4 linked regions of the Homo sapiens genome follow. The protein of the gene in region 1 interacts with the protein of each later gene in a biochemical or structural test. Each region holds a gene or a part of one and is shown on either strand. Other genes may lie near its edges.

The links.
Region 2: the proteins of USP21 (region 1) and AURKA form a complex in vitro, tested with the Homo sapiens proteins (2 studies listed by BioGRID, with this or other methods).
Region 3: the proteins of USP21 (region 1) and YOD1 form a complex in vitro, tested with the Homo sapiens proteins (2 studies listed by BioGRID, with this or other methods).
Region 4: of the proteins of USP21 (region 1) and MAPK3, one has a biochemical effect on the other in vitro, tested with the Homo sapiens proteins (one study listed by BioGRID).

Annotation. Positions count from the first base shown.
Region 1 is NC_000001.11:161,155,139-161,162,536, reverse strand, and holds the start of USP21 (ubiquitin carboxyl-terminal hydrolase 21), read right to left. Parts: upstream 3,038-7,398; 5' UTR 2,859-3,037; exon of another isoform or gene 2,837-2,858; coding exon of another isoform or gene 2,771-2,836; exon of another isoform or gene 2,172-2,770; 5' UTR 2,031-2,171; exon of another isoform or gene 1,918-2,030; coding exon of another isoform or gene 1,897-1,917; coding exon 1,297-1,896; intron 500-1,296; coding exon 440-499; intron 268-439; coding exon 147-267; intron 1-146. Other genes in the region: UFC1 (ubiquitin-fold modifier-conjugating enzyme 1), read right to left, coding at 4,045-4,125, 4,326-4,416, 4,844-4,920, 5,220-5,283, 5,520-5,587. UniProt on the Homo sapiens protein: Deubiquitinates histone H2A, a specific tag for epigenetic transcriptional repression, thereby acting as a coactivator.
Region 2 is NC_000020.11:56,368,890-56,375,252, forward strand, and holds the end of AURKA (aurora kinase A), read right to left. Parts: intron 4,668-6,363; coding exon 4,519-4,667; intron 1,771-4,518; coding exon 1,596-1,770; intron 1,452-1,595; coding exon 1,269-1,451; 3' UTR 501-1,268; downstream 1-500. UniProt on the Homo sapiens protein: Mitotic serine/threonine kinase that contributes to the regulation of cell cycle progression.
Region 3 is NC_000001.11:207,043,312-207,047,019, forward strand, and holds the end of YOD1 (ubiquitin thioesterase OTU1), read right to left. Parts: 3' UTR 538-3,708; downstream 1-537. UniProt on the Homo sapiens protein: Hydrolase that can remove conjugated ubiquitin from proteins and participates in endoplasmic reticulum-associated degradation (ERAD) for misfolded lumenal proteins.
Region 4 is NC_000016.10:30,113,605-30,120,257, reverse strand, and holds the end of MAPK3 (mitogen-activated protein kinase 3), read left to right. Parts: intron 1-1,719; coding exon 1,720-1,909; intron 1,910-2,094; coding exon 2,095-2,211; intron 2,212-2,473; coding exon 2,474-2,588; intron 2,589-2,972; coding exon 2,973-3,104; intron 3,105-3,254; coding exon 3,255-3,364; coding exon of another isoform or gene 3,365-3,421; intron 3,422-3,467; coding exon 3,468-3,590; 3' UTR 3,591-3,622; intron 3,623-4,612; exon of another isoform or gene 4,613-4,663; intron 4,664-5,549; 3' UTR 5,550-6,153; downstream 6,154-6,653.

The sequences.
Region 1 (7,398 bases):
AAATAACCTTTAGGAAAGTAGGCACTGGGAAAAGTAGATACAACTGCCAGATTTAAGGGTTGGGGGCCACCACCAGTGGCAGATGGACCTGCAAGTGGTTGGGGAAAAAGGGACTTGAACAGAGGGAGCAGGAGTTGTTGCCCCACCTTCAGTGAGCTCTTGGGCTCGGCCTCCTCCAGGCACCTCTTGCCGGAAGTCCCTTCTCAGACAGAAGTCCCGAAGAGGTCGAGTGCTGCTCAGACACTGCAGCACAGCATTCAGGAAGCACTGGGGAGCAGTAGGGACACTGCTGTTATCTCTCCAGACCACTGCCCAGGAAGCCTTAGAAGAGCTTCAGAGCTCTCCTTCCACATGCCTTCCCCAAGCTCGTGGGTTTTCCCCACCCCCAGCACCATTTCACATTCCTTTTAGAGAGGAAAGATAGGAGAATAGCTCTCACCGTGTTTCCCAGGTTTCGAAGGCCAACATGACCAGAGCCCAGAAGGAGTGTGTGATGAGCCTGGAAGGTCAGAGTACAATCGGCAAGTTCCTATATATCCTACCTGGCACTTTAACCTTTCAACAGCATGCTGCCCACTGCCTCCCCCATCCCATGCATGTTTCATCCCCAAACTCTACCCTATTCCCCTCACTAGGTATTCTAGTCTCCCTACCTCACTGGTCATGAGCAGTAAGCCCATCACAGCTGAATGTACCACGGACTCAGCCATGGCTGTCCCACCTGTTGCCCACTTACTCCTCTGCTCAGCTAGCTGACGTTGCAGCTCCTGGGGCAACTCCCCCAGCACCGGCATGGTTGCCCAGCTGCTCACCACTCCCACCTTTCTGCCCCCAAAACCCCCTCCTGCCCCCGTGGCCCCTTCTTGCCCTTCTCCTGCTGGCTCCAATTGCAATCAGCCTAGCTTACTTAGCTCAGAAAATGTGCAACCACGTTTGCTAAGATGTTCTGTGCCTGCCTCTCTTTAGCTCCAGAGATTAATTAGGCCTAGGCAGAGTCCCAGTAGAGAAGGTGCAAGCAAGGGAAAGGAAGGGCCTGGGGACCCAAAGAAGAATTCTAAATAGTTGGGGTAATCCCCTGGGGACCGAAATGGCACACCATGCTGAAGAGTCACCAACAACCCAAAAAAGGGTCTAGGAGGCTCAAGGGTATTTAAGCAAGGGAGAGGCATGTCCAAACTGCTGTAATGAAGGGCTGAGAAAGGAACTTCAGGGAAATGGGGGACAGAAAAGGCAGAGGATGGCAGGAAAGCACAGAGGAACATGGGCATGAAGGCCATGTGTGTGGCAAGTCCTCACCATCTTGTCATCAGAGTAGAAAGGCTCAGAGGACCGGGCGGATATCATGTGGAAGGAGCCATGGGAAGCAGGGGGCTCTGTCCGTATGCTGAACAGGGTAGGGGGTCCAGGAAAGCCCCCTAGGCGGCGGAGAGAAGTGCTACGTCTCAAAGTGGGTGGCTCAGGCCGGAGGGCCAAGCGGCTCAGTGCAGCCCCAAGCTCTCCGGTGCCACGGTGCCCTCCCAAGGCAATCCCCATTGGACGCAAGTCCCCACTGCTCACAGACTTGGAACGGGCTAAGTTGGTCCGAGATGGGAGAGGCAAAGCCACTGTTGGGGGTGGTGAGCCAGGCAGGGGAACCCCATGATCTGCTCGAAGGGGGCCTCTGGGACGAGGGCCTGAGGTCCGTCCCCGTCCCAGCTCCAGTTTCTTGAGCCGTTCATCAGGCAGACCTGGCCGGGGAGGCAGAGGTCGTAACATGGGGTTTGGCCCAGAGGCTGGGTTTCTGCGCTCCTTGCTGCGGGCCCTGGGGGCAAATGGTAGCTTGGATCCCACTCGGGGCTGGATATTAACAGGTGGCTCTCGGGTACGGCCCAGGCGGTGCTCAGAGGCCTGGGGCATTGTGGACACCACAGGCTGGACCTGGGAGGAGAAGAGAGTGTCAGCATTTGAATATGGGGGGAAATGGGAACCCAGGCTGCTGTACTGAACCCTGCCACACTAATTTTCCCTTATTGCTTTGCCCCATTCCATACCCACAATCTTGCTGTCCTCTCATTTCCACATTAGGTGGTTGGCTCAGTCATCACCACTACCACATCAACGAAAGTGGGGAGCAGTATACGCACTGAGGGCAGGAACCAGATCTATCGAATCAGCCATCGTATCCCCAGTACCTGGCATCGTGTTTGGTACAAAGTAAATACTTAGTATCTATTGGGTAAACAAATGAATGAAAGATAAGCAGCCCATGGCTTTGACCCTTTCTATACTCCCGACCCCTCCCTGCAGAACACATCTTTACTGAAAAGCCAGTGATAACTCCTATCTCGGCTCTAACGTAACATGGGACCCCATACCCGGCTAGTAAAGTAGGATGTGCCTCGGGTCACTTAAGACCCTAGCCAAATGGTAGTGTAGATGCAAGAATAACAGCCCAAAAGACAGCCCTCCATCCTCGAATCCCTGCCTCTCTGGGCTGCAAATGAAGCAGACTATATGGGTGACTTACGATCCATTCCCTCCCCCACCTCCGACCTCCGACATGGTGTCGAGGTTCAGAAAGCAGTAGTCGGGGATGGAGGACGAACAACTCCTTGACCCTTAATCTCTGCACTTCTCCCACCACAGCAGGGCTTTAGCCGGGTCCGCCCCCCTCGAGGGCAGAAAGGCCGAGACCGCTGATTGGCTACGGAATCCGGCGGCGTATTCCCCGCGGTCCAGGGATGCTGTCCCTCCAGCCCAGTTCTCCCAGGCCCCGCCGGGCCCCACGCGCCTTTGTGGAGAGTGTCCTCTCGGGTCTGGAGCAGTCTTCCCTCTGCGCCCCCCCACACCCCGCCATGCCATAACGCCCCGGCCCGTACCTGTCCCCCAGTGAGGCGGCGGGAGAGGCCAGCCAGGGCCAGGCCCCAGTTCAGGGCCACCCCCTACTACCCCCGTGCAGCCCCCCCGTGGGCCCGGCTGCAGCTTTAGCCGCAGCCGTTGCCCAGATCGCTCCCGCCGCAGGGGCCGCCGCCATCTTTGTTGGTCCCGCCCGGCCACCGGCCACCGGCTTCACCGTCTCTCAAAGCGCCTGCGCATCCACACCCGAACTCCTCCCACCGGTCCCTTGGCGCTTGCGTGAGCCCGCCCCCACGGCTCCGCGATCGACACCATGGAAACGCAGCCAAGTTTAGGGTCGCTGGTTCTCAACGCTGCCCAGAGAGGTCTTTAATCCATGACTCCAAAGCAAGTCCCTGAGGTATAGGGTGCCGTCGCCCCATCCTATAGCCCATAGGGATGGAGATCTGACAGTCGTAGTATGGCCGCGAGGCTTACAGCACAGATCCTTCCCAAACAGCAGGGGCGCAAGTATGGCAAACTGCAGGCCTGGGTCCAGCCCGCAGACCAGTGGAGAAGCATCTAGCACTTCACAGAGGGCTGGGAAGATCCCTGGAGGGCGGGAAGTGCTGGTCCGGCAAAACCACTTCTTGCAGGCTAACACGGTAGGGCAAAGCATGGCTCACCACTAAAGGACAAAGGTAGATCTGAGCAGCAGGGGGAACAGTCAACATTTCATTCCCACTCCTGACCAGAGCATCCCCTATTTCCGACTCTTTCCCAACCCAACCCGGCGTAGCTGTTCATGTGCCTCAGGTTTCAGCCCACTTGCCCTCTGTTAACAGCTCCCAATGAGAACCACAGGCTACCAGAGGAAGCAGCTTTTATTGATGGGTTATCTCCAGAAACCAGAAAGACTATATGTACTCACTTTCAGTTACCCCCGTGCCTCCAGAATCGCATGTTGCTCCACCTGGGGGCGGATATAAATTACCTCTAGATTGTCCAAAGCCCAGTCTTTCCCTTCCCTGTGCAGCCTTAGAAACTAAGTAGCAGTACTGTTTGGTGTGTGTTTGTTTCTTCCCCAGCAATGCCTACTGCAGCTACTTAGTAACAACTAGAGGTGGAGGGTGTCCGGGGAAGCAGTTAGATGAGTTAAGTGTGATGCACAGGAAAATAGTATCGTAGCCTATCAAAGGTCCCTCTGCCCTGCCTCAGTGGCTTGATTCTTCATTGGTTGCATTTCTCTTTGTGTTGGATGACGCCCTTCTGAATCAGATCAGGGATTTCCACTGCCAGCCATGGACCCAGCTGCAATACAAGGAAAATCCTGTGAGATTACTACCAGTCAATGCTTCTTGTTCCATTAGAAGCTCCTTCCTGGAGACAGATTCTGGGGGAACATGCTTAAGGGACATCACTGTTATTCCTTTTATTCTTAGCTGCTTTTCTTGTACTGCTCAGGGCCTAAGTCCCTCTTTCTCCTTTTATGCCAAATACACAAAACTTACCCCCAGAGCCATGAGATGAGCTAGTCCAAATTTGGGCACATTCCTGGCCCACAAAGGTTTGAAATGATCCGTCAGGCATATTTTGCCACCCCTATGAGAGGGACATGAAGAAGGTGTTGACATGCAAAGTTTACCATAAAGCACAGCAGCCTCTTGGGGGCATAGGAAGACTACTAGTGATCAGAATTGAGAACAAGTTCAGCTAAGTACTTTGCTTAGGCTCAGCAAAGGAGGGCCTGGCACCCCACTAGGCCAGCAGACCCTGGGAAAATCTCTGCCTCCAAAGTTCTTCCTTTTTTTTTTTTTCCTTACATCTTTTAAGTTCAGAGGTACACATGCAGGATGTATAGGTTTGTTACATAGGTAAACGTGCCATGGTGATTTACACATAGATCATCCCATCACCCAGACATCAAGCCAAGCATCCATTAGCTATTCTTCCTGATGCTCTCCCTCCCGCCACGAAGTTCTTCCTTAAGGCTTTCTTTGACTCTTTGCCATCTCCTATTCAGTCCTACCTGTACATCTTTGCTGTCTTTCCATCCAGCTCAGGAACTGCAATTTCTGGGGCAGTAGTAGGATATGTGATAGGAATCTGGAGAAATTATAAAACCTTAATAAAACAGAATCAGGATAGAAAGGAACTAATATAATCAGACATACATATTTCTTGGTTAAACTGAAATGTTAAGTAAAACTCCCCAAGGAGCACATCCATACCAGGATTCTGGATGTGGAGATGAGTAAATATAACTTATGCTTGCCTCAAACCTCAGCTTTTCTCTCCCATTTTTAAAGTTTTCTTTGGTCCCTTCAAGAAAGGATAGCTTGTTACCCATCATCTAATCCCTCCCCTTCTACTAACCTTCATATTTCCCACTCTATCACACTCACGTCAAACTCGATGTCAAACTCATATTTCAGGAGGTCATGGATATACCAGCATTTTCCAAACCACCTGTAACAAAGACCAAACCTCAGTCCAATTTGCCTATTCTTCCAGTACTCAAATGATATCTTGGCTTAGGCCACCAGCCTGGGAGACTCATAGGATGGGAACTGGGGAACTCTGGCGCTGTGGGAGTGGAGACAGCTAACATGTGACAGGGCAGCTTTGGTAGTGGGCGCTAGGATACCAAATTGCCTAACTCATATAAGACTCCCACCCCACACCTCCCAAGAGGGTCTACCTACCGAGTTCCTTCCTTGTTGGACTCCAGTCGGAACCAATCGTTGTCAGCATTCTTGTTGTTCTCCACATACTGAAAGCAGAGAATGAGGTCTTTGAGAGAGTAGTTGGGGCCAAGGGCAGTCCCCCTCTCCTCAAAAGAAAAGTATGTGGTTATTTTTTTTATTTTTTATTTTTATTGAGATGGAATCTCGCTCCCGTCGCACAGGCTGGAGTGCAGTGGCGCAATCTGGGTTCACTGCAACTTCCACCTCCCAGGTTCAAGCGATTCTCCTTCCTCAGTCTCCTGAGTAGCTGGGATTACAGGCGTGCACCACCATGCCCGGATAATTTTTGTATTTTTAGTAGAGACGGGGTTTTGCCATGTTGGCCAGGCTGGTCTCGAACTCCTGACCCCAGGTGATCAACCTGCCTTGGCCTCCCAAAGTGCTAGGATTACAGGCGTGAGCCACTACACCCAGCCGGTTTTTTTTTTTTTTTTTTTTTGAGACAGTCTCGCTCTGTCACCCAGACTGGAGTGCAGTGGCGCAATCTCGGCTCACTGCAAGCTCCATTGCCTGGGTTCACGCCATTCTCCTGCCTCAGCCTCTCAAGTAGCTGGAACTACAGGTGCCCGCCACCATGCCCGGCTAATTTTTTGTATTTTTTTTTTTTTTAGTAGAGATGGGGTTTCACCATATTAGCCAGGATGGTCTCGATCTCCTGACCTCGTGATCCGCCCACCTTGGCCTCCCAAAGTGCTGGGATTAGAGGCGTGAGCCACCACGCCCAGCCTACTTTTTCTTAATATGTTTACCTAATTTTTCTAACATTAGCAAAGCTGAAGACAAGGCTATACTGGTAAGTGGGGGTCTGCCCAGAACAGAGAATAGAATGGGCTCCACTCAATTTAGCAAGCACAAAAGACCTGAAGATACCATCTGGATTCTCCTCTCACTTCTCTGATAGTGTCTGCCCTCAGCCCACAACTCATTTAATGATAGACTCCTTCCCTGGGTAACTCCCTTCTAGCCTCATATAGTCCTGGTTTCAACTAACACCCACAGGCTAATGACTCCCAGATTTTCATCTTTGGTCCAGATCTTTCCTCAGAACTTCAGCCTTTAGTATCCAACTGTATGTTGACGTTTTGACCTTCATTTCACAGGTACTTCAAACTCAGCATTTCCATCTGGAATTTTTTATATTCCTTTGGATACACTTCCTGAATTATCCTCCTGAATTATCAATTTCAGGTGGCAGTATGAGCATTCACCCAAGGCAAAAACCTGGGAATCATCTTTGACCCTCCCTATCCCTTACTACACTAATCCATGTTATGCTAATTTTACCTTCTGAATATTCTACAAATCTACCTCTCCTCTCTATCCTCACAACTGCCTAGTTTAGATTGCCTTTTGTTTCGCTGAGATTAATGACAGCCTAACTTGTCTCTTACCTTCAGTCTTGTCCCTGTCAATTGTATTTTCCCCTTATTGCCAATGTGACTGATCTAAACCCAAATCGGCCATGTAATTCCTCAGCTTAATAACTTTTAACGGTATCCCAAAGCCTCCAAGAGAAAATTCAAGTGCTCAAATATGTCTCCTAGCTTTGTCTACCATTCCCTGCCTCACATTTGATGCTCTAACAACTCTGAGCTACTTTGTTTCTTCAAACACATCATGCTGGTGCCTGTGCCGTTTCTAGATTCTATGCCTTTGCTCATGCTGTCCCTTTTGGCTTGAATGTCCTTCTACTCTTATGTTTTATCAGGCTAGCTTATGTTTACTCTTTAAGTTTCAGCTCAAGCATTACCTCTTCCAGGAAACCTTCCGTGACCGAATGCAAACTGGATGTCTCCTCTTATGCTCTCAAAACATCCTAGCCATTTCTCGCTTTATA
Region 2 (6,363 bases), on another chromosome or scaffold:
GTCAGTCACGTGATAATAACTATAGCTTGGGAGGGTGGCACATGAACTATTTGGGAAGGTCAAAGTCAGTTCAGCTCAAGACTATGAGAACCAGAAGCCCCTTTGTCCCAAGGGGGCTGGCAGCTGCAGTTTTACTGAGTCATGTTTTTAAGTTTCTCTATATTGGCCACTTTGTTATGACATATCCTGACATACCTGCTGTCCAGTTTCTTGCACTGAGCATTGGCCATGCAAGCAGATTTCTCTACTAGCTCTAAGTTCAACACTTCTACTTTTCCTTCATCACAGTCACTTTCACCGTATCTTTAGTCGATGGACAGATGACAAAGATATGACAAATATATAAACAATATATATAATGAAGTATTAGGAGTACACCCAACAGGAGAGACCAGAAGAGGCAGGACTAGATGAGGGCGAGACCTGCTCCTCTCAGCCCCTGCTCATTTCCAGGCCAACAATGAACAGATGGTGGAAAGAATTACACAGCACTCCACACAGACATAGATACTTATTTATTTGCATATTTAAAGTTTACACACATGCTATGACTCCAATGTTTTAAAAAAATAAGCCCTTAACAGCTCTGAGACACATGGCCTCTTCTGTATCCCAAGCAAATCCCTAAATGGAGGTAGAGCACGTGTTCCTATTTTTCACACTCTCATATGGGAGATAAGTGGTTAAGGAGGACTAGAAACCCAATCAGGCCTACCGGGGTGCCGGACAGACACACAGCATTCCTAAAGGAATGCCACCAGAGAAAAAATACAAGTCTGTACATATATCTTTATTTTCATACTTAAAAAGAATCACATACTCATTCCAACAGCTTTACCAGGCTTCGCCAACCCAATAAGTTACACACTCACTCAGGTACTAGGAAGGTTATTGCACAGCTCCTTAACTGATCGGGGTCAGGGCAGAGTGGTCACTTTCCCCACAGCCAGGCTCTGGATTTGCCTCCTGTGAAGACACCATGCCTAGCACAGGCTGACGGGGCGGCTGCAGTCGAACCTTGCCTCCAGATTATGAACCAGTATAAGTAGCACAATTCTCGTGGCTACTTTCACTTCAGAGTGTCATGTTTATTGATGTGGAGCTTTCTGAATAGGGAGGTTAAGGCACACCTGCTGAGTAAAACAAATATTTCTTGTGTAGCGTTCTAGATTGAGGGCAGCAGTCAATGGTAAAATAAACTTCAGTAGCATGTTCCTGTCAGGTTATATGGCAGCCCTGGCTCAAGGATTTCTCCCCCTGCACGATTCCTAAGACTGTTTGCTAGCTGATTCTTTGTTTTGGCAATTTGATGGTTTTGATGAATTTGCTGTGATCCAGGGGTGTTCAAGTACTTCTCTGAGCATTGGCCTCTGGCTGGGATTATGCTTCAACAGTCTTGAAATGAGGTCCCTGGCTCCCTCTGTTACAAAGTCAGGGAATGTGAATTCAACCTGGAGTACAACAAATGATAAAATATCACAAAACACAGGTTAGAGAGATCAAATAGTATAGATGTTCGGATCTTGGCCTGCAGTTCAGGCTGATAAGGAAAGAATTCCAGCAGATGTGCTGGGTCCTTTTCAGTTGCGTCTTACCCGTGATATTCTTTTGTAGGTCTCTTGGTATGTGTTTGCCTCAAAAGGAGGCTTCCCAACTAAAAATTCATAGCAAAGAACTCCAAGGCTCCAGAGATCCACCTTCTCATCATGCATCCGACCTTCAATCATTTCAGGGGGCAGGTAGTCCAGGGTGCCACAGAGAGTGGTCCTCCTGAAAACGGAGGGAGGCTCAGGTTGATGTGCTTCTCGTTTTATGATCACAACAGCTGCTAACAATCATTAAAGAGTCCACTAACACTGAGGTCTTCCCCTGGGCCAGATCCTGTGCCCTAGGAAGTAGCTACTATTATAAATTCCCATAGGAAACAGATGAAGCGAGGTGTGTAAGGTCACACAGCTAGCCATCAGGCTTAACCCCAAATCTGTCCAACTCCAGAACCTCCCTGAATAATCTAGAATGTAAGAAACTGAATGTATCACTACCATATAAAAGCTGCCATGCAAAGTTCTCTGTAAATACGATTTGGATTCTACATCTGCATGTGGATATTACAGATATGCTAAGAATCTTAAAAGCCTGGTCGCAATGACAATACACTAGAAACTGTCCCACTGTAACAGCACTGGGGTGGAGATGTAGACACATGCTGCCTTGTGATAGATACTTGGTACGAGTGATGCTGAAATTTTGAGGGTGGCCTATGAAGTACTCTTGCCAAAAATATTTAACCTGGCTGGGTGCAGTGGCTCATGCCTGTAATGCCAGCACTTTGGGAGGCCGAGGGAGGCGGATCACGAGGTCAGGAGATCGAGACCATCCTGGCTAACATGGTGAAACGCCGTATCTACTAAAAATACAAAAAATTAGCCGGGTGTGGTGGTGTGCGCCTGTAGTCCTAGCTACTCAGGAGGCTGAGGCAGAAGAATGGCGTGAACCCGGGAGGCGAGCTTGTAGTGAGCCAAGATCGCACCACTGCACTCCAGCCTGGGTGACAGAGCGAGACTCTGTCTCAAAAAAAAAAAAAAATTTTCTTAACCTGAATCTCTTCAGGACCTGAGACCTACATTCCAGTTTTCAGCAAATACGGGGAATAAAGGTCCAAGTTAAGTGGCAACACAATCAGAAAAGTCCTCTTTAAAGTGGGAGACTGGTCTGGCTTTAGACCACAGAGACAATCCAACCACAGAGACAGTCCAACCACAGAGACAGTCCAACCACAGAGACAATCCAACCACATAGACAGTCCAATACAAAGCATGGGCTTTGGTTGAGTTCTGATTTTACAAACCAGCTATAAGATGTCATGGACAATAGGAGAAATCTGAATGTGGACTAAATATTAGATACTGACAATGCTGTTAATTTTCTTAGGAGTGATCATGGTTCTAGTTATATAGGAGAATATCCTTATTTAGGAAATGCATTCTATTATAGTGCTTAAGGTTGAAGCATCATGATGTTTGCAACGTATTTTCAAGTGTTCACTAAAAAAGCAGATGCAGCCCTTCTGACTAAATGGGAAAAACTGCTGAACGTAGGCACTGTATAGACAGGTATGCCATCAACTACCAATTCCGCATTTTTATCGGTTTAGGTTTTTTTAACGAAGGTTGGAAAAAAGCTGGGAACAGCAGACAGCAAGCCAGAACAGTCTGTGTGGGTTCGTGTTGCTTTGTTATCAGCTGCTCTTCACCATGGAGGCTTACGTGGTCACAGCCCTGGTGCTGTGTTCAGCCAGGCCTGGCACCCACTGAGCACACAAACAGTCACTCACCACTGAATTGTGACGTAGGATTAAGAAGCTACCACTCTGGTCATCTAACCCCTCCATCAGCACCGACGGACTGAATCGGGGGTTCTCAAACTGAGGCAATAACCAGGAAATGATGATGATTAACATCTGGGATTTGGAGTGAAGTGACTATCGGTTATGTAAGTAATCTTTTCAAAAAGCAAGAAGCCATCTTTTCTATCACAATTCAACCGGTTAAGATACAGTTTAACTCTGCGATTCCATGAAGCCTGTAAGTCTTTATTCTGGTTTGTCTCACCAGATAACAGCTCCCACTAATGACAACCAGTTTAAAAAAAAAAAAAAAAAAAAAGACTGCAATAGCAGATTCAGTGCATTGCTGGAACAATTAGAAGTGCTCTGTAACAAAAGCAAAGGTTTTCTCCCTCATATTCTATTTTAGGCTATACTTTTTTTTTAACTAGCTTGATTTTTAAGTCATTTGGCTATAATTTGAGTCCTCCTCCAAAGTTGACAAAACTTCATCGGTAGATATATGTTTTAAAATGCCCCACTTCATGTGAAGTTTCAAAGCTTATTTAAACTCAAATTTAAAACAGTAAAGATATTGTAGTTCACTTGGAAAGCTAAGATTTGAATTGTTTTGAGACTGACATCTCTGCTTCAGCTGTGACAGGGGATAAGAAAGGACTATCCCTACTATTGACAGAGGCAGACTGAAGAGAATCTCTCACCACTGCCCTCAAAGCACCACCAAACTAATTTAGTGTTTCAAGTTCCCTGATATGGCCTGCACTCTGAGCTCTAGATCTTTGTCAGTGCTGTCCTCTGAACCATCTCCCCATCTCCTCATCCAGGAAGCAGCAGAGGTGAAGAGTTCCTCCCACTCAACATGTGGGCACTTCACCTCTGTCATATACGTGTCCTATCTGTTGACTCATTCATCCCTTCATTAGCCTCTAAGGACATTAAGCATCTTCAACCCTAGGCCTAGAACACTGCTAATAGCCCCAAATCTCCACAGAATAACACTTTCTTGCAAACCCTAGTTTATTATTAAGCCTAAATTACTCCAAAGTACTTCTGGGTTAGCCACCTACCCCTCTTACAGCACAAAATCTACACTGAAATATTTTACATTTAGCTCACGGTTAGCTCCCAGGGCTTTGGTAAACCAAACAACTTCCACCTCTAAAGTTACATACCTGGAAGATGGAGCATGTACTGACCACCCAAAATCTGCAATTTTAAGCTCTCCAGCTGATCCAAGAAGTAAGTTCTCTGGCTTAATGTCTCTATGAATAACTCTCTTCGAATGACAGTAAGACAGGGCATTTGCCAATTCTGTTATATACTGTTAAAACAATATTGAAAGCCTATGTTTTAGATTTTATATAACACAAGTTAATATTAGACATCTCTTCCGAAAGGAACACAACATAGATTTAACATGGTTTGCAGGTTTTGGCCAGGCACAGTGGCTCACACCTATAATCCCAACACTTTGGGGGACTGAGGTGGGAGGATCACTTGAGCCCAGGGGTTCAAGACCAGCCTGGGAAACATAGCAAGACTCCATCTCTACAAAAATTTAAAAATTAGCTGAGCGTGATGGTGCATGCCTGTAGTCCCAGCTACTTGGGAGGCTGAGGCAGGAGGATTGCTTGAGACCAGGAGGTCAAAGCTGCAGTGAGCCATGATCACACTTCAGCCTGGGTGACAGAAGGAGACCCTGTCTCAAAAAGGAAAAGACAAAACAAAAAATACATTTTGCAGGTTTTAAAGCAAGGATTGTAGAAATTATATAGGAGTCTACACACACACACACACACACACACACACACACACATCAACTGAACCAATTTATAGTGGTTAGCATGAAGTGAAATTACCCAATGCTTAGTCATCTCTGCTAATACAGCTGGTGTGATGTTGAAAGTCAGAAAAGACATTCAGCCAGTTAGAGCTAGCTCTTAGGCTGGTGCCATGTCAATGCAAAACACAGTTACTTTTGCACCAACCTAAAGTTACAACACCATACGGCAACAAATGGCCCTGCAGCCAGGAAGTAAGACAGTGCTGAAGAACTGGTACAAATTAAGGATTCAGATGTGTAAATACTGCCTTTTTCTTTTTTAGAAAAAAAAAATGAACTTTGCAAGTATAGTCAATTCCCTTTTTTAAAACCAAGGTCATTCTGTGACAGAAGAATTTGTTTAAAGCTAAAAATTTACTTCAAGAATATCAGGAGAAAAAATTATCCTGAACAATAAACAGAAACTAAAAAGCAGTTGCACTGACATATTAAATAGCATGTTAAATTTTGGGTTACACTAAGTCAGCATAGAAGTACATAAGAAATCAGTCCTTTTGTTAATTTTATTTCCTTAAGTTACTATCTTTTTTTTTTTTAATAGAGATGGGGGTCTCACTATGTTGACCAGGCTGGTCTCAAACTCCTGGCCTCAAGTGATCCTCCCATCTCAGCCTCACAACGTGCTAGGATTACAGACATGAGCCACTGCACCCGACCGAATTACCATCTTGTAAGAAAAGTTTTCCTGGCCAGGTGCAGTGGTTCATACCTGTAATCCCAGCACTTTGGGAGGCCAAGACAGGTGGATCACCTGAAGTCAGGAGTTCGAGACCGGCCTGACCAACATGGTGAAACCCTGTCTTTACTAAAAATACAAAAATTAGCCAAGTGTAGTGGTGCATGCCTATAATCGCAGCTACTCGGGAGGCTGAGGCAGGAGAATTGGTTGAACCCAGGAGGTAGAGGTTGCAGTGAGCCGAGATCATGCCATTGCACTCCAGCCTGGGCAACAAGAGTAAAATTCCGTCTCAAAAAAAAGCAAGAAAAAGAAAAGTTTTACAGTCCCTATCGCTAAGATTTAGCAAACAAGTCCAGTATGTATGTATTTACTTATTTATTTTTAAGAGACAGGGTCTCACTCTGTCACCCAGCCTGGATTGCTATGGCATGATCATACCTCACTGCAGCCTTGAACTCCTGGCCGTAAGCAATCCTCCCACCTCAGCCTCCTTCC
Region 3 (3,708 bases), about 46 Mb from region 1:
TGTACAAACTGATTAGATATTATTATACTTCCACGTCCATAATTTTAAAGCTTTCAATGAGAAAGAATGGGTTAAATAGTTTAGTTTAGTTAGGGAACCTGAACTCTGGCCAATTGTAATAGCCACAGGGTTGCTTCAAATACATGTTTAAATGTTGACATTGCCAAAGATGAAATAAACCCTCCTATAGTGATGTTGCTGTTTTCAAACAGATCTAAGTTCACAAAGATTGCAGTCTATTAGAAAATAAATATTAAGCCTTTCCACACTGACAACTTGTCAGCAACAAATATTGAATTACAACTTGTAGGATTGGATTTAGAAAAAAATTTAGTCAATGAATGGGAATTTCAACCTTTCGTTAAGGAGAAATACCTTAGTTTCTCCTGTCTCATTCATTGAGTCCGCCTAAAGGGTGATATTTGGCAGATTTTGGTACCTTAGTTAAAGATTCGGTAAGCTTTTGATAATATGTATATTGAGTAAAATAGCCGTTCAGTGGCCATATCTGCCCTGATCCCAAAATATACTCAAACAACGTTTTCACTTCATTTATTCCTTTGAAACAAGTCACTTAATACAGCATTTAGATATTTAAAGTCATACACCTCATAAATAAAATCAATGCATCTTAATGACAATGGCAAAATCACATAAGAGTTGTAGAAAATGAAGTTAGACATCTTCCAGGTAGCAGCAGTGTATTACTTCAAAAAATGCTGGCAAATAGGCAAAACATTTTTAAAACAAGAAAACACTGTCCATCTGCATTAAGAAAAAATATTTTCTTATGCTGTTTTGCCCATCCCTACTTTTTCAAGTCATATTCTAAAGCTCTAATTTGACGGTCTTTACTTGTGGTTTTCTTTTTGCGTTAGGAACCTCTGTCTCTACTGCATTAATACAGAAACTATAGGAATATTGTTGTTCTCTAACCCTTTTCACAAACTATTCATATTCATTCTGTATTTAGGCTGAATTCAAATTTTTTTCAAGGAAAAATACTATTCTGCTAAGTACATATTTCCTGTAAACAGCTGGAGTCCTGAATGGCACCAATGTGACTGGAAAACTGACAAAAATTAGGTCCCCTGGTCCTTTAAGTAACTTACGGGCTAATTACATAGCCTATACCAGTTTATAAAGTAGACTCATGTAATCATATTAGAAATTCTGAGCCTAAGATGATCCTTTCTGTTTACCTACAACTTAATCAAATTATATCTTCACCATTCCTAAACTCCTATATGTTGGTTAGTACTTTTAAAAACATATGTATAAAAGGGCATCATGGCAAAATGCTTATAATTCATGGTTTCATACTTTAATGATAAGCTTTTTCACCTATGGCCATGCTACATTCTATGACAAGAAATGGGGAAGAAGGGTTGAGTTGACACAAAGGCATTGCTTTAAAAATGTTTGGAAAAGGGTAATTCATGACTAGGAATGCATCTATTTGACAATCTCTTCTTTATCAGTGGTACTTTGTCTTCTTGGCCCTTTTCTCCCTTCACTCTACCATGAGGGGGTTACCAACCTCCTTTAAATGTGTATGAATCAAGACCTAAATCAGCACCCTACAATTCAACATCAATAATAATTTTAAGTCAAACATTCAAAGCACTGTAAGCAAAATGCTAGATAATTTTGAGAAAAATAAACACTCTCCCACAACCAGGGACACTTAATATTCTTTTTATGTGGAATGAAATGTGCTGAAATACTGTAACATAAGAAAACAGCTTTAGTTTATAAACTAGCTTATTCAAATCAAGTGTTTCACTTTGGACTTAAAATGATGCCACTTGTATATGACACGTTTAAGGCCTCTGACTCAAAAATCAGCTTCCTTATAAGTCTGCTTGGAAACAAGTTTTAAGGATCGAATCTTTTAGAAATTATCAGTCATCTCTGCACTACAAGGACAAATTTGAATACTGCATTGTATAATAATACAAGATATTCACATAATAATAAGTAACATTTTTAATGCTAGGGCACAGACCATGCTCCTAATAGTTACTGAAATTGAGTTCTACTGTTATCAAAACACCAGAATGTTGTGCCAATAGATACACTCTACACTGATGGCAATCTTTGATTAAGAAGAGCTGATGGTTAGTAGCTCAAGAATTGTACTTTAATGTCCTTAATTAGATCCCTAGAGGGCCAACATGTAAACTTTTATTCCATATATATTTTTTAAAGTGCTGCAAACAAATGTGTCTCCACACATGAAAGAACATAATTCTTAGTATGTTTAGGAAGGCCACCTGATTTGTCAAAAAAAAAAAAAAATCACTCTTGCTTAATCTTGCATACTTCCCATTCCATTTTTTTTCCCAAAAAGATGTAAGAAAACTATGTTTAGCTTAGGGCAACTTGCAACACCCACGTTTTAATCCCTCCACAGAAGGAATAAACTAGAGAAGCAAGTTAGGCATGGGCATTTAGGGACACAGACAAATTAGATAGATAACATAATGTTAGTTAATTCCTCATTATTATTTTGCTGGGACTTCATGGAATAATCAAGCGGCATGACTACATTAGTTGTTAAAAACAGGGTCAAACTGACCAGCAGTCAAGCGTCAAGGGTACCACTTGACTATGCTAATTTCATGGGAAACAATGAAGAAATCAACCATGAACCATTAGCAAAAGATGGAACACACTAATGTCTTCACTTGGCTAACACATCACAAAATTTCCAGGTATGTTAAATTTTAGCTTCTGAAATCACTTTATTCAGGAGTGAATCTTCATAGTACTACACCTGACCTTTAATCCAAAGAAAAGTAAGAGAAAGGAAGAAGGGTGGGGTGGGAAAGTGAGGTCTTTATTCACTTTGCCACTAATATAAACTGTCATTTTAATTTTTAAAAAAATTCCTCTATGGCAGGCAAAAACTCAATGAATAGGAAAGATTTCATTCTGCTCTAGTACAAAACTTAAGACATTTAATCCTCCTGAAAGTTGTAAGTCCATAGATTTTCAAAATTCCCAAGATGAGAATTTACTCCCTTTAATAACTAATTCCAAGAGTTTAATAAGCACAGTAAAAAATGAAAAAACAAACAAACAAAAAGCAAACCCCTGTAAATTCTGTGAGGCTTAAAAGCTTGAGTTTAGAATGAGCAAAGGTTTAGGTTTTTAATCCTCAATAATTAAATCAGATGGTCCACAAATAAAGCTTCACCTTGAATTTTCCAGGATCAGAACACTAAAGTACTAGTGCTAAATTTCAGCAGACTAAAGAGTCATTTTTGAAAGGAATTTGACAGAGTATCAGTGTCCAACCGGTAAATGGACAACCTAGATAACAGATAAAATACAATGAAATAAGATCCCCTGAATAAATACTTGACACTTAATATGTAAACAAAGCCCTTACAATGAAGGGGTTTAATTCTGTAAAATATCAGTGTTCTATTCCTTTCCATTTGTTAAATTTACCCACTGTAGAAAATATATACTGAATATAAAGTGACAGAAACTTATGTTGGAACATATCAAAACATATGACAGAAACATATCAAAACATGCCTGGCACAGTATAAATTACTCAATAAATATTTGTTGCACGAATAAACTTCTAGATCTAAAGCTGTAGTAAGCAAATGTCAACTCTGTGTCCTGAAGTAGCAAAGAAAGGAAGGCAAGCTTTCTGAGTAATGATGCATAAAGCTCAATTTGATAATTGTT
Region 4 (6,653 bases), on another chromosome or scaffold:
GCCCTAAAACAGCAGGGCTGGTCCACATATTCTCTGAAGACCCTTTCAAGGCTGATTCTTGTTTTCTTTGTTTTTTGTTTGTTTGTTTTTAGATGGAGTCTCCCTCTGTTGCCCAGGCTAGAGTGCAGTGGCTCAATCTCAGCTCACGGCAACCTCCACCTCCCAGGTTCAAGCTATTCTCCTGCCTCAGCCTTCCAAGTAGCTGGGACTACAGGCGCCTGCCACCACGCCCGGCTAATTTTTGTATTTTCAGTAGATGCGGGGTTTCGCCCTGTTCACCAGGCTGGCGTCAAACTCCTGACCTCAGGTCATCAACCCACCTTGGCCTCCTGAAGAGCTGGGATTACAGGCATGAGCCACCATGCCTGGTCTCAAGGCAGATTCTAAAAGACAGCCCTGACTTATTTTTCTAGAGACAAGCCAAACAGCATTTGTGGATTTATTTATTTATTTACGCATAAGCTTTTTTGTATCTTCAAATAGAAAAAGACATTTTACTCCTCCATCTTCTGAGGTATGGCCAAGCACTCTCCTTTGAGTGGGAGTGTGCTGTTGGGAGTGTCTCCTCATTTTTCTTGCACAAACCATTCCCATAAGGCAGGCATTTATTTTTAAGCAAACATTTATTGCATGCCAGATGGTGTTCATACATTATCTCATTTAACTCCCTCAACAGCCATGTGACTCAGGCATTCATATTAGTAATAATAGTTCATGTTTGCCTAGCACTCACAACTTGCCAAGCACTGGGCTGACAGCTTTACATGCGCCATCTCATCTAGTCTTCACAACCACCCTCAAAAGAACCATTATTTCATGGCTTGCACCTGTAATTTCCAGCACTTTGGGAGGCCGAGGTGGAAGGAACACTTGAACCCATGAGTTCAAGACCTGCCTGGGCAACAGAGCAAGAGCCCATCTCCACAAAAAGAAAACAAACAAACAAACAAAAAAACATTATTTCCCCTACATACCAGATGAGAAAGTTGAGGCACAGACAGGTTGAGATCCTAAAGCCAGTGAGTAGTAGAGAGGAGATTTCAGACATCCATGGGTTAACTCCAGAGTTGCTGCTCTTTTTGTAGGTTTTTTTTTTTTTTTAATTTATTTATTTTTGAGACAGAGTCTCACTCTGTCATCCGGGCTGCAGTGCAGTGACACAATCTTGGCTCACTGCAACATCTGCCTCCTGGGTTCAAGTGATTCTCGTGCTGCAGCCTCCTGAGTAGCTGGGATTACAGGCACATGCCGCCGTGCCCAGTTAATTTTGCTATTTTTAGTAGAGACAGGGTTTTGCCATGTTGCCCAGGCTGGTGGTCTCAAACTCCTGGCCTCAAGCAGTCCTCCCGCCTCAGCCTCCCAAAGTGCTGGGATTACAGGTGTGAGCCACCACTCCTGGCCCAAGTTGCTGCTCTTAACTGTGAAGTTCTCCTGCCTCCCACAGTTTATTATTATCCCCGTTTCCCCGGTAGGGAAACTGAGGCCTCAGAAATGAAGCCCCTTGCTCAGGATCAGCAACTGTGATGCAACAGAGGCTCAGAGCCCTGCCGCTGGGTAATGGCAGCAGCTTCCCCAGCTGGTGGTGCAGGTTGGCAGATCTATTGAGTCCCAGGGGCCCTGGCTGGAGGAGGTGTGCAGCCTCGCCTTCAGAGCCTGTTTTCCTTAACCAAGTGCCTCCCACTGCCCCCTGCCTGGGGGGGTCTGCGGAACCATCCTCAGCTACATTGTGCAGGACCTGATGGAGACTGACCTGTACAAGTTGCTGAAAAGCCAGCAGCTGAGCAATGACCATATCTGCTACTTCCTCTACCAGATCCTGCGGGGCCTCAAGTACATCCACTCCGCCAACGTGCTCCACCGAGATCTAAAGCCCTCCAACCTGCTCATCAACACCACCTGCGACCTTAAGGTCAGAGGGTTGGGCACCTGTCCCCTCCTCCCCCAGGGTCTGGGGCTTCCAGTGACCAGTAGAAGAAGCCTTGGGCAGGAGAACATTGCAAGCAAAGGGAACAGTGGAGGCAAAGACAAGGGGGCGTGACTGCTTAGGCTGCAGAGGCCTTGAGCGCCGAGCTTAGCAGCTAGGTCTGATTCCAGATTTGTGATTTCGGCCTGGCCCGGATTGCCGATCCTGAGCATGACCACACCGGCTTCCTGACGGAGTATGTGGCTACGCGCTGGTACCGGGCCCCAGAGATCATGCTGAACTCCAAGGTAGGAGGGGCTGCCCACTCCTGAAAGGAACGGACCAGTTCCCAGGAAGCCCTGGAGCTACCTCTGAGCCAGACACTGACCCCCATGACACAGGAATTCTACCCTCTGGGCCTTGGGCTCTGCAAGGAAGCTGAGCATTGAGCCCTCCAGGCCTCTGCCTTCTGCCTGGTGTTGGATCTAACTTGGAGGTGGTGGCCTGGCGCAGACAACAGGACCCTGTTGAGGCTGGCCCAGGAGCTCACCACTTCCTCCTCTCCCCCAGGGCTATACCAAGTCCATCGACATCTGGTCTGTGGGCTGCATTCTGGCTGAGATGCTCTCTAACCGGCCCATCTTCCCTGGCAAGCACTACCTGGATCAGCTCAACCACATTCTGGGTGAGGGAGGCCCGGCTGGCTGAGTTGGGGATGATTAGCTTTTCCGAGGTGAGATTTCTCGAGAGTCCAAGTCAGGGATACCACCACGTGTGGGGTGCCTCCAGCATCTCATGGTATCTCAATGAGGTATAGATATTATCCCCATTGGATAGATGGGAAAAGCAAGGCTAAGTCCCACACCTGAGGAGGCACCAGACCTAGGATTTGAGCCTCGGTCTGCCTGAACCCAGCCCCCTTGCTCTGCACCACCATGCTAATGACTAGGAGGTGACTGAGGGATTGGCATGGGTTGCTGGGCTGGGGGGTCTTGTTCTTGCCTTGTTGCCTATTCTGTTCCCAGAAAGAAAGAGGTGATCATTTACCAAGTCACCTCCTTATCCACAGGCATCCTGGGCTCCCCATCCCAGGAGGACCTGAATTGTATCATCAACATGAAGGCCCGAAACTACCTACAGTCTCTGCCCTCCAAGACCAAGGTGGCTTGGGCCAAGCTTTTCCCCAAGTCAGACTCCAAAGGTTCGAGAGACATGAGGGTGGGTGTGGGATAAACCTTGGGTGTCGTGGAGGGTGTGTGAGCCCAGCAGCCGCTGGAGGAGACAGGCAAAGCAATGCTTCTCGGAGCTCCTCCAGTCTTCCCTGTGACCCCTGACTCCTGCCCTTCCATAGCCCTTGACCTGCTGGACCGGATGTTAACCTTTAACCCCAATAAACGGATCACAGTGGAGGAAGCGCTGGCTCACCCCTACCTGGAGCAGTACTATGACCCGACGGATGAGGTGGGCCAGTCCCCAGCAGCAGTGGGGCTGGGGGCAGGGGAGCAGGGGGGCACGTAGGCATCCCCCATGCCAGGCCTGAGCCTTGCTGTCTCTACCACCCCAGCCAGTGGCCGAGGAGCCCTTCACCTTCGCCATGGAGCTGGATGACCTACCTAAGGAGCGGCTGAAGGAGCTCATCTTCCAGGAGACAGCACGCTTCCAGCCCGGAGTGCTGGAGGCCCCCTAGCCCAGACAGACATCTCTGCACCCTGGGGCCTGGTGAGTGTCTCCATGGCCCACACATGGACACCCTGATACTAAATATCTATATCTGTATATCTATATCTATATCTATCTGTACATGCCTCCATACAGCAGCAAGCTTACCCCACACCCATGGTCAATGTGTCTGGTGACAACAGAAGTGCCCAGGGGGCTGGGTGTGGTGGCTCATGCCTGGAATCCCAGCACTTTGGGAGACTGAGACTGAGAGGAGTGGATCACCTGAGGGTCAGGAGTTTGAGACCAGCCTGGCCTGCATGGTGAAATCCCATCTATACTAAAAATACAAAAATTAGCCGGGCACAGTGGGTCACTCTGGTAATCCCAGCACTTTGGGAGGCTGAGGCAAGTGGATCACCTGAGGTCAGGAGTCCGAGACCAGCCTGCCTGGCCAACGTGGTGAAACCCTGTCTCTACTAAAAATACAAAAATTAGCCGGGCACGTAGGCATGCGCTTCTAGTCCCAGCTACTCAGGAGGCTGTGGTGGGAGGACTGCTTGAACCTGGGAGGCGGAGGTTGCACCACTGTACTCCAGCCTGGGCAACAGTGAGACTCTCTCAAAAAAAAAAAAAAAAGGGCTGGGCACAGTGGCTCATGCCTGTAATCCCAGCACTTTGGGAGGCCGAGGTGGGTGGATCACAAGGTCAAGAGTTGAGACCAGCCTGGCCAACATGGTGAAACCCGGTCTCTACTGTAAAGAATACAAAAATGAGCTGGGTGTGGTGGCACATGCCTATAATCCCAGCTACTCAGGAGGCTGAGGCAGGAGAATTGCTTGAACCCAGGAGGCAGAGGTTGCAGTGAGCCGAGATCGCACCACTGCACTCCAGCCTGGACTACAGAGCAAGACTCCATCTCAAAAAAAAAAAAAAAAATGCCCAAGGCTGCCCAGACTGGTGGCCCACCGAGTCCTCCAGCCCCAAATGTCTCTGCCTGTCAACACCTTGCATCCTCCAGCCCCACAAGCCATTCTAATCTCCTTCTAGGAACAGAACTGGCAAAGAGGCAAGAGGTCACTGAGGGCCTCTGTCACCCAGGTGAGGACCTGAGCCAAGCTTCAGCTCTGGGTGTGGCAGAAGCAGGTGGGGCCATGATTGCTTTGGGAGGGGCCCAGCAGCGCCCAGCCTGACCCAGATTGCCAGGCCTCCTCACACCTGCTGCCAGATCAGCAGTTCACATAGCTGTGGGGACCCCACTGGCCTGCCCCCACCCACGCTGCCTCCTTGCCTCCTCCGGTCTCTTCCTGTCTTCAGCCAGGTGTGGCCTGATAGAAAGAAGGCATGCGCACCTGGGCTCAAACTCCAGCTGTGCCACTTAGTAAGTGCTGTGTGATATTGGGCAAGGCACCTCACCTCTCGGCGCCTCAGTTTCCGGAGTCAATCTATTTATCTTTTTTTTTGGTTTTGTTTTTTTGAGACAGTGTCTCGCTCTGTCACCCAGGCTGGAATGCAGTGGTGCAATCATAGCTCACTGCAGCCTCAAAACTCCTGGGTGCAAGGGATCCTCCCAGCTAGCTGGACGAGCCATTGCAACCGGCTAATTTTTTTTTTTTTTTTTTGTGGAGCTGGGGTCTTGCTATGTTGCCCAGGCCAGTCTCAAACTCCTGGGCTCAAGCGATCCACCACCTCAGCTTCTCAAAGTGCTGGGATTATAGGCGTGAGCCACTGTGCCCGGCCGAGACAGTTCTAATAATGAAAGCATAAAGCCCTAAGCATTGTTCTAAGAGGTTTACATGTATTAATTCCTTTAATCTTACAGCAGTACCTCAAGCTAGGTACTATTATTATCTCCATTTACAGATAAGGAAACTGAGACCCAGCCTATCCAGCTGTGAGGGTGAAATGAGAGATGTTGAGGTCAGGGCTCCAGTGGGTCTGCCCGGGGGGTGCTAACGACTCCTCTTCTGCCTGCTTCTCTCTTTAGGACCTGCCTCCTGCCTGCCCCTCTCCCGCCAGACTGTTAGAAAATGGACACTGTGCCCAGCCCGGACCTTGGCAGCCCAGGCCGGGGTGGAGCATGGGCCTGGCCACCTCTCTCCTTTGCTGAGGCCTCCAGCTTCAGGCAGGCCAAGGCCTTCTCCTCCCCACCCGCCCTCCCCACGGGGCCTCGGGACCTCAGGTGGCCCCAGTTCAATCTCCCGCTGCTGCTGCTGCGCCCTTACCTTCCCCAGCGTCCCAGTCTCTGGCAGTTCTGGAATGGAAGGGTTCTGGCTGCCCCAACCTGCTGAAGGGCAGAGGTGGAGGGTGGGGGGCGCTGAGTAGGGACTCAGGGCCATGCCTGCCCCCCTCATCTCATTCAAACCCCACCCTAGTTTCCCTGAAGGAACATTCCTTAGTCTCAAGGGCTAGCATCCCTGAGGAGCCAGGCCGGGCCGAATCCCCTCCCTGTCAAAGCTGTCACTTCGCGTGCCCTCGCTGCTTCTGTGTGTGGTGAGCAGAAGTGGAGCTGGGGGGCGTGGAGAGCCCGGCGCCCCTGCCACCTCCCTGACCCGTCTAATATATAAATATAGAGATGTGTCTATGGCTGACCCTGGCTCTGTCTGTGTTCGCGACGCCCCCGCCCTGCCCCGTGCGGCTCTGAGGACAGACTTGACTTGGGCTTTCAGGGGCCTGGTGCCCTTCACTCCCAGCTGCCCAGGGCTGGGGACGGGGCTCTGGAGAGCTCCAGACTCCTAGAAAGAAGGGGGTCAGTTTTCCCCTTAGTCACTGTCCTGTCCTCTCGCTAATGGCTTCCTGTCTAACTGGCTGGGGGTGATTCGGGGTGACTCAGGAGCACCCTACACACCCCTGGATCCTCTGAAATGGCAAGGGGTAGGCATGTTGGATGCGCTGGCTACAAGTACCAGTGAGAGGGAGAGGTCCTGACAGTCCTGGGTGGTTTTTACTCCCCTCATGTAGCCCAGGACGGGGCTGCTGGGGGCTGGGAAGGGCCTGGGGATATGAGAGCCAGGGCTACTTGCCTCACCTCCTGACACTACCCCAGCTTCAGCCGAACCCTGCAGCCTGGCTCCAAGCCAGCCCAGCGGCA